Homo sapiens: one gene and its partners. The protein of the gene in region 1 binds, or shares a complex with, the protein of each later gene. Each region holds a gene or a part of one and is shown in the gene's direction. Other genes may lie near its edges.

Evidence for each region.
Region 2: NOD2 (region 1) and AKAP13 share a complex: the UniProt entries of both Homo sapiens proteins name them as parts of the signaling complex.
Region 3: NOD2 (region 1) and MAP2K3 share a complex: the UniProt entries of both Homo sapiens proteins name them as parts of the signaling complex.

The regions. Positions count from the first base shown.
Region 1 is NC_000016.10:50,710,484-50,714,231, forward strand, and holds part of NOD2 (nucleotide-binding oligomerization domain-containing protein 2), read left to right. Parts: intron 1-74; coding exon 75-1,890; coding exon of another isoform or gene 1,891-1,891; exon of another isoform or gene 1,892-2,154; intron 2,155-2,269; coding exon of another isoform or gene 2,270-2,270; exon of another isoform or gene 2,271-3,106; intron 3,107-3,748. UniProt on the Homo sapiens protein: Pattern recognition receptor (PRR) that detects bacterial peptidoglycan fragments and other danger signals and plays an important role in gastrointestinal immunity.
Region 2 is NC_000015.10:85,579,603-85,583,350, forward strand, and holds part of AKAP13 (A-kinase anchor protein 13), read left to right. Parts: coding exon 1-2,505; intron 2,506-3,748. UniProt on the Homo sapiens protein: Scaffold protein that plays an important role in assembling signaling complexes downstream of several types of G protein-coupled receptors.
Region 3 is NC_000017.11:21,308,563-21,312,310, forward strand, and holds part of MAP2K3 (dual specificity mitogen-activated protein kinase kinase 3), read left to right. Parts: intron 1-3,579; coding exon 3,580-3,719; intron 3,720-3,748. UniProt on the Homo sapiens protein: Dual specificity kinase. Is activated by cytokines and environmental stress in vivo. Catalyzes the concomitant phosphorylation of a threonine and a tyrosine residue in the MAP kinase p38.

The DNA.
Region 1 (3,748 bases):
AGCAGCCCATTGTCTGGTTAGGTCCCGTCTTCACCATGGTGCCACCTTCATCTGCCTCTTCTTCTGCCTTCCAGCTGCCACATGCAAGAAGTATATGGCCAAGCTGAGGACCACGGTGTCTGCTCAGTCTCGCTTCCTCAGTACCTATGATGGAGCAGAGACGCTCTGCCTGGAGGACATATACACAGAGAATGTCCTGGAGGTCTGGGCAGATGTGGGCATGGCTGGACCCCCGCAGAAGAGCCCAGCCACCCTGGGCCTGGAGGAGCTCTTCAGCACCCCTGGCCACCTCAATGACGATGCGGACACTGTGCTGGTGGTGGGTGAGGCGGGCAGTGGCAAGAGCACGCTCCTGCAGCGGCTGCACTTGCTGTGGGCTGCAGGGCAAGACTTCCAGGAATTTCTCTTTGTCTTCCCATTCAGCTGCCGGCAGCTGCAGTGCATGGCCAAACCACTCTCTGTGCGGACTCTACTCTTTGAGCACTGCTGTTGGCCTGATGTTGGTCAAGAAGACATCTTCCAGTTACTCCTTGACCACCCTGACCGTGTCCTGTTAACCTTTGATGGCTTTGACGAGTTCAAGTTCAGGTTCACGGATCGTGAACGCCACTGCTCCCCGACCGACCCCACCTCTGTCCAGACCCTGCTCTTCAACCTTCTGCAGGGCAACCTGCTGAAGAATGCCCGCAAGGTGGTGACCAGCCGTCCGGCCGCTGTGTCGGCGTTCCTCAGGAAGTACATCCGCACCGAGTTCAACCTCAAGGGCTTCTCTGAACAGGGCATCGAGCTGTACCTGAGGAAGCGCCATCATGAGCCCGGGGTGGCGGACCGCCTCATCCGCCTGCTCCAAGAGACCTCAGCCCTGCACGGTTTGTGCCACCTGCCTGTCTTCTCATGGATGGTGTCCAAATGCCACCAGGAACTGTTGCTGCAGGAGGGGGGGTCCCCAAAGACCACTACAGATATGTACCTGCTGATTCTGCAGCATTTTCTGCTGCATGCCACCCCCCCAGACTCAGCTTCCCAAGGTCTGGGACCCAGTCTTCTTCGGGGCCGCCTCCCCACCCTCCTGCACCTGGGCAGACTGGCTCTGTGGGGCCTGGGCATGTGCTGCTACGTGTTCTCAGCCCAGCAGCTCCAGGCAGCACAGGTCAGCCCTGATGACATTTCTCTTGGCTTCCTGGTGCGTGCCAAAGGTGTCGTGCCAGGGAGTACGGCGCCCCTGGAATTCCTTCACATCACTTTCCAGTGCTTCTTTGCCGCGTTCTACCTGGCACTCAGTGCTGATGTGCCACCAGCTTTGCTCAGACACCTCTTCAATTGTGGCAGGCCAGGCAACTCACCAATGGCCAGGCTCCTGCCCACGATGTGCATCCAGGCCTCGGAGGGAAAGGACAGCAGCGTGGCAGCTTTGCTGCAGAAGGCCGAGCCGCACAACCTTCAGATCACAGCAGCCTTCCTGGCAGGGCTGTTGTCCCGGGAGCACTGGGGCCTGCTGGCTGAGTGCCAGACATCTGAGAAGGCCCTGCTCCGGCGCCAGGCCTGTGCCCGCTGGTGTCTGGCCCGCAGCCTCCGCAAGCACTTCCACTCCATCCCGCCAGCTGCACCGGGTGAGGCCAAGAGCGTGCATGCCATGCCCGGGTTCATCTGGCTCATCCGGAGCCTGTACGAGATGCAGGAGGAGCGGCTGGCTCGGAAGGCTGCACGTGGCCTGAATGTTGGGCACCTCAAGTTGACATTTTGCAGTGTGGGCCCCACTGAGTGTGCTGCCCTGGCCTTTGTGCTGCAGCACCTCCGGCGGCCCGTGGCCCTGCAGCTGGACTACAACTCTGTGGGTGACATTGGCGTGGAGCAGCTGCTGCCTTGCCTTGGTGTCTGCAAGGCTCTGTAGTGAGTGTTACTGGGCATTGCTGTTCAGGTATGGGGGAGCACCATCAAGGCTAAGTGTGGGAGCACCGAGCTGGGCTCTAGAAGTCTGGGCCCAGCTTCGCCTCTGCCACCCTGCTTTGCAACACTGCCCAGATCCCTTCCCTTCTGGGCCTTAATTTCAATATGTGATGATGACAGCCACACTTTATTGACTGGCCTATGTGCTGGGTCTGGTGCTATGCTTTCCGGAATGACCTCATCTAATCTCTACAACCACCCTGGCGGGTAGGCAGGAATGTTATTATCTCCATTATCCTTGACTTGAGGCTCAGAGAAGTGAAGTAACTTGTCCAGGAAATGGCAGAGCTGGGGTTCACAAATTGCATCATTCTGATTACAGGTTTTCTGCCTCCCACCAGTCTATGGATACACTTCAGAGGCTCCCTGAAAACCTTGAGGTCACTTGCAGAAAGTTTTGTGTAGTATGTGTCCGTATCAGGAACAACACCAAATCAGAGGTGACTTGTGCCCCATCAGAGACTTTAACACCCCAACCAGATGGGAATTTCAGGACCCAAGAAATAGAAAGTGGCTGCAGGGTTACAACTACTGTTGGATTCCTGAGGTAGCACAGTGTCCAAACAGGATTTCAGCACTACCCGTATTGCTTAGAGCCCCAGCCAAAGATGTGAGGTTTTGCCCTTTGGAGAATCTGTGCCCCTGAACTCGGGGGCCTCTTTCCACATCTTGGGGGCAGGCAAGGGCAGAGGGTGTGCCTAGGCCTGCGGATCAGCATGCGACAGATTCCCCAACATCCTTCCAGCTTGAAAGGGGATTGCCCTGCTTCTATTTAGAACCTATAGGAAAGCAGAAGTTCTAGATTGAAGTTAAAATTGATTCCCAGCCTCCAGGGGCTTTGGGCTACACCTGGATGACCTTAATTGACCCTAAGCATGGGACAAACCACTTCCTGAGAGTATTAGGATGGTATACATCTTCTCTGGGGGCAAAGCAACAAGATTTATTTTTCATCATGGACCAAACACATGGATACCCACTAGAAACTGTGTAGTGAATTTTGTTAACCCTGACATAGGGACCATGGTCTTTAGGTTAAAGCATAATAACAACATAATACATAACATATATAGCGAATATATATATGTATTATATGCAATGAATGTAAATATGATTATACCCATCATGGTCTTGGAGGAAACAGATGACACACTTAAAATGGGTGTTTTGAGGAGAGTTTGAAAAACAGATTGTTTACAAGCCATGGGCAGGAGTTAGGAAGAGTGAGAGGGTTGGTGCAGGGGCCTGGGGTTAGTAACAGCTGGGGGAGGGTAGACTTGAAGGGGGAAGGGGAGGGAGACTAATTAGCTGGGGGGAAGGTATGGAGACGGCTGCCTGAGCTTCTGCAAAGTGGAAGAATACCGCTTGGCCCTAACTCCTCACCCCAACTCTTGCTCCTGGCCAGCGCCTTCCACCAGCTGGACCCATCAGGGAGGCCGAGTGGGCTGTCTGCTGGAGTAGTCCCCAGGCATCAGCCTCCCAGGAGCCAGGGACGGGTAGAGAAGGGGGAGAGTGGATCTGGCCAGGCAAATGGAAAACAGCCAGCACCAAACTCTATTTCCCTAGGAGGGAGGATCATGATACTTTGAGTGGGAATTTGGAAACCTGTCTGTTGGAGCAATTTCCCTGATAGAAATAAGAATGTGCATTTTCCTGGGTAGTAGACTCAGTTTTTACCCCAAGAGGCCAGGCATCACTGGCCTGTGTGATCCTCATAGGCCAGTCCATCTCTGGAATTCTTGAATGGATCATCCATCCTTGATTAGGGATGTCCCCGTGATTACCAGGGTGTGCAGAAGGG
Region 2 (3,748 bases), on another chromosome or scaffold:
ATATTGGCACAGCTGGAGCCTCTGACGTGCACGTCACAAGTAAGCCTGTGGATAAAATCAGTGTTCCAAACTGTGCCCCTGCTGCCAGTTCCCTGGATGGTAACAAACCTGCTGAGTCTTCACTTGCATTTAGTAATGAAGAAACCTCCACTGAAAAAACAGCAGAAACGGAAACTTCACGAAGTCGTGAGGAGAGTGCTGATGCTCCAGTAGATCAGAATTCTGTGGTGATTCCAGCTGCTGCAAAAGACAAGATTTCAGATGGATTAGAACCTTATACTCTCTTAGCAGCAGGCATAGGTGAGGCAATGTCACCCTCAGATTTAGCCCTTCTTGGGCTGGAAGAAGATGTAATGCCACACCAGAACTCAGAAACAAATTCATCTCATGCTCAAAGCCAAAAGGGCAAATCCTCACCCATTTGTTCTACAACTGGAGACGATAAACTTTGTGCAGACTCTGCATGTCAACAGAACACAGTGACTTCTAGTGGCGATTTGGTTGCAAAACTGTGTGATAACATAGTTAGCGAGTCCGAAAGCACCACAGCAAGGCAACCCAGCTCACAAGATCCACCCGATGCCTCCCACTGTGAAGACCCACAGGCTCATACAGTCACCTCTGACCCTGTAAGGGATACCCAGGAACGTGCGGATTTTTGTCCTTTCAAAGTGGTGGATAACAAAGGCCAACGAAAAGATGTGAAACTAGATAAACCTTTAACAAATATGCTTGAGGTGGTTTCACATCCACATCCAGTTGTCCCTAAAATGGAGAAAGAACTGGTGCCAGACCAGGCAGTAATATCAGACAGTACTTTCTCTCTGGCAAACAGTCCAGGCAGTGAATCAGTAACCAAGGATGACGCACTTTCTTTTGTCCCCTCCCAGAAAGAAAAGGGAACAGCAACTCCTGAACTACATACAGCTACAGATTATAGAGATGGCCCAGATGGAAATTCGAATGAGCCTGATACGCGGCCACTAGAAGACAGGGCAGTAGGCCTGTCCACATCCTCCACTGCTGCAGAGCTTCAGCACGGGATGGGGAATACCAGTCTCACAGGACTTGGTGGAGAGCATGAGGGTCCCGCCCCTCCAGCAATCCCAGAAGCTCTGAATATCAAGGGGAACACTGACTCTTCCCTGCAAAGTGTGGGTAAGGCCACTTTGGCTTTAGATTCAGTTTTGACTGAAGAAGGAAAACTTCTGGTGGTTTCAGAAAGCTCTGCAGCTCAGGAACAAGATAAGGATAAAGCGGTGACCTGTTCCTCTATTAAGGAAAATGCTCTCTCTTCAGGAACTTTGCAGGAAGAGCAGAGAACACCACCTCCTGGACAAGATACTCAACAATTTCATGAAAAATCAATCTCAGCTGACTGTGCCAAGGACAAAGCACTTCAGCTAAGTAATTCACCGGGTGCATCCTCTGCCTTTCTTAAGGCAGAAACTGAACATAACAAGGAAGTGGCCCCACAAGTCTCACTGCTGACTCAAGGTGGGGCTGCCCAGAGCCTGGTGCCACCAGGAGCAAGTCTGGCCACAGAGTCAAGGCAGGAAGCCTTGGGGGCAGAGCACAACAGCTCCGCTCTGTTGCCATGTCTGTTGCCAGATGGGTCTGATGGGTCCGATGCTCTTAACTGCAGTCAGCCTTCTCCTCTGGATGTTGGAGTGAAGAACACTCAATCCCAGGGAAAAACTAGTGCCTGTGAGGTGAGTGGAGATGTGACGGTGGATGTTACAGGGGTTAATGCTCTACAAGGTATGGCTGAGCCCAGAAGAGAGAATATATCACACAACACCCAAGACATCCTGATTCCAAACGTCTTGTTGAGCCAAGAGAAGAATGCCGTTCTAGGTTTGCCAGTGGCTCTACAGGACAAAGCTGTGACTGACCCACAGGGAGTTGGAACCCCAGAGATGATACCTCTTGATTGGGAGAAAGGGAAGCTGGAGGGAGCAGACCACAGCTGTACCATGGGTGACGCTGAGGAAGCCCAAATAGACGATGAAGCACATCCTGTCCTACTGCAGCCTGTTGCCAAGGAGCTCCCCACAGACATGGAGCTCTCAGCCCATGATGATGGGGCCCCAGCTGGTGTGAGGGAAGTCATGCGAGCCCCGCCTTCAGGCAGGGAAAGGAGCACTCCCTCTCTACCTTGCATGGTCTCTGCCCAGGACGCACCTCTGCCTAAGGGGGCAGACTTGATAGAGGAGGCTGCCAGCCGTATAGTGGATGCTGTCATCGAACAAGTCAAGGCCGCTGGAGCACTGCTTACTGAGGGGGAGGCCTGTCACATGTCACTGTCCAGCCCTGAGTTGGGTCCTCTCACTAAAGGACTAGAGAGTGCTTTTACAGAAAAAGTGAGTACTTTCCCACCTGGGGAGAGCCTACCAATGGGCAGTACTCCTGAGGAAGCCACGGGGAGCCTTGCAGGATGTTTTGCTGGAAGGGAGGAGCCAGAGAAGATCATTTTACCTGTCCAGGGGCCTGAGCCAGCAGCAGGTAAGCAAAACATAATACAAAATTAACAGTCTGAGAAGCAGATTCCCTTAAGAGTCACTGTGGTGTCCTGGTAAAAATATAGGCATCTTTGTTGTTTTGAGGCCTTGCACTCATTGGGTAGGTAGCCAAGTTAATAGTCACCACCATCAGGAGGGGCACGTCATCTCAGGGTTGGACAGATTTTGCTTCCTGTATTGTAGACTTACTGCTTGGTTGCTTAAGCTTATAAACACTCCTGTCTCATTCTGGAGTGGTTGCAACTTTGCAAACCTAGAAAACAATGCCTAGATCACAGGTACTCTAAAGTGGTGAAAGAATTTAGCAGATGTTTTTATTCACATGGCTTAATCCTTTTCTCTAGTACCATAGAAAACAGTGCCAAAAAGCTGTGTTTTATCTACAAGCCTGAAACTCCCTTCCTCCCCTATCATCCTAGTCTGTATTCTGAGCAAATTTAGAGTCAGAGTGGTTTCATGAACAGCTGTAAGTATTGTTCTGAGCTGACTTCCCAACATCCAAAATGGTGGTATTAGGTCATTGGTGGTTTTTTGTTTGTTTGTTTTTGTTTTTTTTGGGCTAGGGGTGTTGTTGACGGGGAACTCCTTCCTTTTCCTGCTTGGGGAGTGGACCTCTAGTTCCATTGCCTGTTGCTTTTGGGCAGCAGTCTGAGAATTCAAGACCCTGCACAGTGCAGGGGATAGGATGCAGGATTTCCGCCCAAGCCCAGTCTGCTGAGCTGCTGTCACAGGGCAGACCTTGTGTCTGCTTTATCTTGGTGAAGCAGCTGCACTGAGCAGATTGCTCACACAGCAGCCTGTTCCATCTGTGGGTAACCATGTTCCGAGGCAGCAAAGAGAAACCGCTATTGCTCCGTGGAAATAAACTATCTGAATAAAACTTCTTAACGGGGGTTGAGGCTGAAGCTGAAACGGGAGTCGGACACGATCTTGGCTCCTGAAGTCTTTAAAGGTCAGTTTGATGCACACTTCTATACCACCACCTGTTACCAGCTGTAGACAGAAGACCTATCTCCATGCTTGCCCCTAGGCTTTTGTAGGTAAGAAGCAGCCTGTTTTGTCTTTATTGTTTATTTTTGCTGTTCTTTTCAATTTTTGAAAATCCCTTTACACATATGTATTAAGAATGTGGGGGAGGGTTATGGAGAGAAATGAATCAATGGAGCAAAAGAAGTTGCTTTGGAAGAAGCGCAATTTAAATACAGTGGTTATTTTCCCTGGTAAAG
Region 3 (3,748 bases), on another chromosome or scaffold:
ACCTTCAATTTTCTTTAATTGGTGACATGTAATTTTTCAATTAAAATTTTTTTTTTTTGAGGTGGAGAGGAATATTCAGGCTGAAGGCAGGTGCTGTATCTGCAATAACAGTTTTCCAAGTCCTAAGTTTGATGCAAAGGACAAGTTCTTGCTGTATTTAGACTGCACAGAACTGGTTGGATATTAGAGACCCTGCTCATGACTACCTCACACATACACACACCCTATGTCCCTTCCCCATCTCCCTGTCTCCCTTCCAGTTGTCCATCCATCATGATTGTTGGGGCCACCATGGCTAGTGGCCTTCTGATATGGCTGGTGGAACTTGGACAAGTGTGTGCTAAGTGTATATTTCAGTTATCAAATATTGCATAGCAAACCACCCTAGAACCTAGTGACCCAAACCAACAGCGGTTTCTTATTTCTCATGTTTCCACCACTGTGGCTGGGCTCAGCTGGATGGCTCTTCTGCTGTACCTGGGATTGGCTGGGGTCATGGCTGGGCTGGGCTGGTCTGGAAGGCCCAAGACGGCCTCACAAACATGGGCCTCCTCTGCCTGGCCTCTCCATGCAACTTACTCACATTGGCCTGCTCCCTGGGCTTCAGAGCATGGCAGTGTCAGCAGAGTTGGAGTTCTTTCATGATGGCTGGCATCTAAAAGGAAGTTCTCTGAAGTGCTAGGCCTGGAACTGGCACAGCATCACTTCTGCCTCATTGTGTTGGTCAGCGAGTCACAGGCCAGCCCAGGTTCAAGGGCAGGGAATGCTCCCGGCTTAATGGAGGATCAGCAGGTGCACACAGCGGGAGGCGGAGGTGGTCACTTTAGGCACAGGTTAGGTTTTTCTTTCACAAGTTACAAACGTAGTGGAAACCTAACATAAAAATAGAGGCACAGTAAGGGGAAAATGACTGTAGTTATTCTACCTAGAGACACCTCTTACCCCGTTTCAGTGCCAACATTGTGCATTATATTATATATATAATATTTTTATTACATATAATAAAATACGTTTTATTAAAATTTAGAGAAATACAAACAATATGTAATGCTTCTCTTTTTTTGTTGTTGAAACAGAGCCTCGCTCTGTCACCCATGCTGGAGCGCGGTGGTGCGATCTCGGCTTACTGCAACCTCCGCCTCCCAGGTTCAAGTGATTCTCCTGCCTCAGGCTCCCGAGTAGCTGGGACTACAGGCGTGCGCCACCATGCCTGGCTAATTTTTGTATTTTTAGTAGAGATGGGGTTTCACCATATTGGCTAGGCAGGTCTCAAACTCGTGATCCACCCACCTTGGCCTTCCAAAGTGCTGGGATTACAGGTGTGAGCCACTGCGCCTGGCCTCGTAATGCTTCTTTTTAAAAAACTTTTTAAAAAAAATTTTGTAGCATTACATGTTGTTCATATTTGTCTCTCTCTCTCTGTTTTTTTTGTTTTTTGTTTTTTTTGTTGTTTTTTTTTTTAGATGTAGTTTTGCTCTTGGTGCCCAGGCTGCAGTGCAGTGGTGCAATCTCGGCTCACCACAACCTCTGCCTCCTAGGTTCAAGTGATTCTCCTGCCTCACTCAATCTCCCAAGTAGCTGGGATTACAGGTGTGCACCACCACATCCAGCTAATTTTGTGTTTTTAGTAGAGATGGGGTTTCTCCATGTTGGTCAGACTGGTCTCGAACCCCCGACCTCAAGTGATCTGCCTGCCTCGGCCTCCCAAAGTGCTTGGATTATAGGTGTGAGCCACCGCACCTGGCCAATTTCTCTAAATTATAATAGACTCCTGTATGTATCCCTTCCAAAGACTCCATAACCATCTGCCACCATTCAGTCACCCTGTCTGCTGATGTGGGTTGTTTCCCTTGTTCCTGCTGTTTTCCTTCCATTTCAAATTCTCAGCCATCCTGGGGGAGCGACTGATGAAACAGAGTCGGGAGAGTCCCCCTGGGTGGGGCTCTGGCCTCGGCCTCCCCCCATCCTGCAAGGGCCCCAGAGCTCTCTTGGCGTTGGCTTTTTCCCACTCACTGCACAAGCCTCAGGATGCCAGTGGGAATCACCCAGAACAGACAGGGGTCATGCCGGGGATGGCCCTTGGCCAGGAGCAAGTGCTGACTGGGTGCTGGCCTGTTAGTGTTGTCGCTGGGGAGTCACAGGGGTGCGACTACGGTCCTGGCTGGGTCTCCGCCCCCATGGTGGGGCCGGCCCCTGGCGCTGGACATTCAGGCTGTTTCTTAGTATTTCCTGGCAGAAAACACCATATGGCACATCTTCGTGTCTGGAGGCTATTTTTGTTGTTTTTCATTTTTTGAGCTCTTTAGAAAAAATAAAGGAGTACGAGGTTGAAGGTTTGGACACTTCTGCTTTTCTAATTATAACTCTCATGGCCGCTGGTCCTTCTCCTGTAGCTCGTATGGGGTACTTGCTCTACATATTGCAGTCAGTGAAAATTCTAAGAGAAAAGCCCCCCAAATCGGTACGGTTTTGTCCTGTGAACACGCATGCACACATGCACACACACGCAGTGGGCCCTGCCTGTGTGGGTGTGTTTGTCTGAGCTGGAAAGGGCCTCTAGCCTGATGGGAGGCACAGTCTCAGCACAGTCCTTAGGGTCTTGTCCGGGCTCCAGTTGCCAGTGCCAAGTGTTTGTGCTGAGGTCTCTTCCGTTCATCATGGTGATGACGGCCGGCAGTGAGGGCCCTTGTGCTGGAGCCTCGGAATTCTCTGTTCTTCCAGGCCGGGGCCAGGGCTGACATAACTTGTTTTTTCCATCCAGTCATCATGATTGGAGCCCAGAGTTGGTTGTAAGCTAGCTAGTCCGTCCCTTCCATGATGACTTCCTGCCAACCACAGGGCTGGGAGCTTGGAGCGAGGACAGAGACCCACCGGCCCGATGTCACCCACAGGAAATCTGGATCCAGCAGGGCACATGTGGCCACACAGGCCACTTGTCTAGGAGGGAAACTGCTGGGGCCCTGCAGAAGATGAGGCTGCAGGCTCACGGGTGCAGAGGCGAAGCAGCCTCATGGTCTCACACTCTGTCCGCGGCCTTGGAGACAGCTGTGTGTGTGTGTGTGTGTGTGTGTGTGTGTGTGTGTGTGTGTGTAGCATTTCCCATGTGCCTCCTCTGTGAAAACAGCCCAAATTAATGACAGCAGATGCTGAAGTCTGAGATGGTCAGATGTTAGGAAGGGGATTGGCTGTGACCACCTGGGACCTGCCCACCTGGCTCATGAGGCTACGGCCCAAAGTTGCCAGCTCCTCAGATTTTTCCAGAGCAGCTGGAACCTGCATTGTTTTGTAAAATCTTCAGAATTCAGGTTTTCTGAAAACCCTATGATGGTCCCACCAGTCCCGGTGTGGGCTGAATCTGCTTCCTGAGCTGGGTCCTGCTGGCTGGGTCGGAGGAGCTAAGAGCTGGCATCCCCGGCTTTCTCGCCTTTGTTCTGCTGGGATGTGGTAGGGAGATCAGCTGTGCAGCTTTGACGCCTGGCTCTGGTACCAGGATGGGTGGGAGCCCCCAACCCTCGCTCCTGGGTGCAGAGCGTGGTTGTATCTGGGGCCGGGGCCTCTGACCCCCTGTCCCCGCTGCAGATTGAGATGGCCATCCTGCGGTTCCCTTACGAGTCCTGGGGGACCCCGTTCCAGCAGCTGAAGCAGGTGGTGGAGGAGCCGTCCCCCCAGCTCCCAGCCGACCGTTTCTCCCCCGAGTTTGTGGACTTCACTGCTCAGTGGTGAGTCTTGGGTGCTGCTGAGCGCCTGC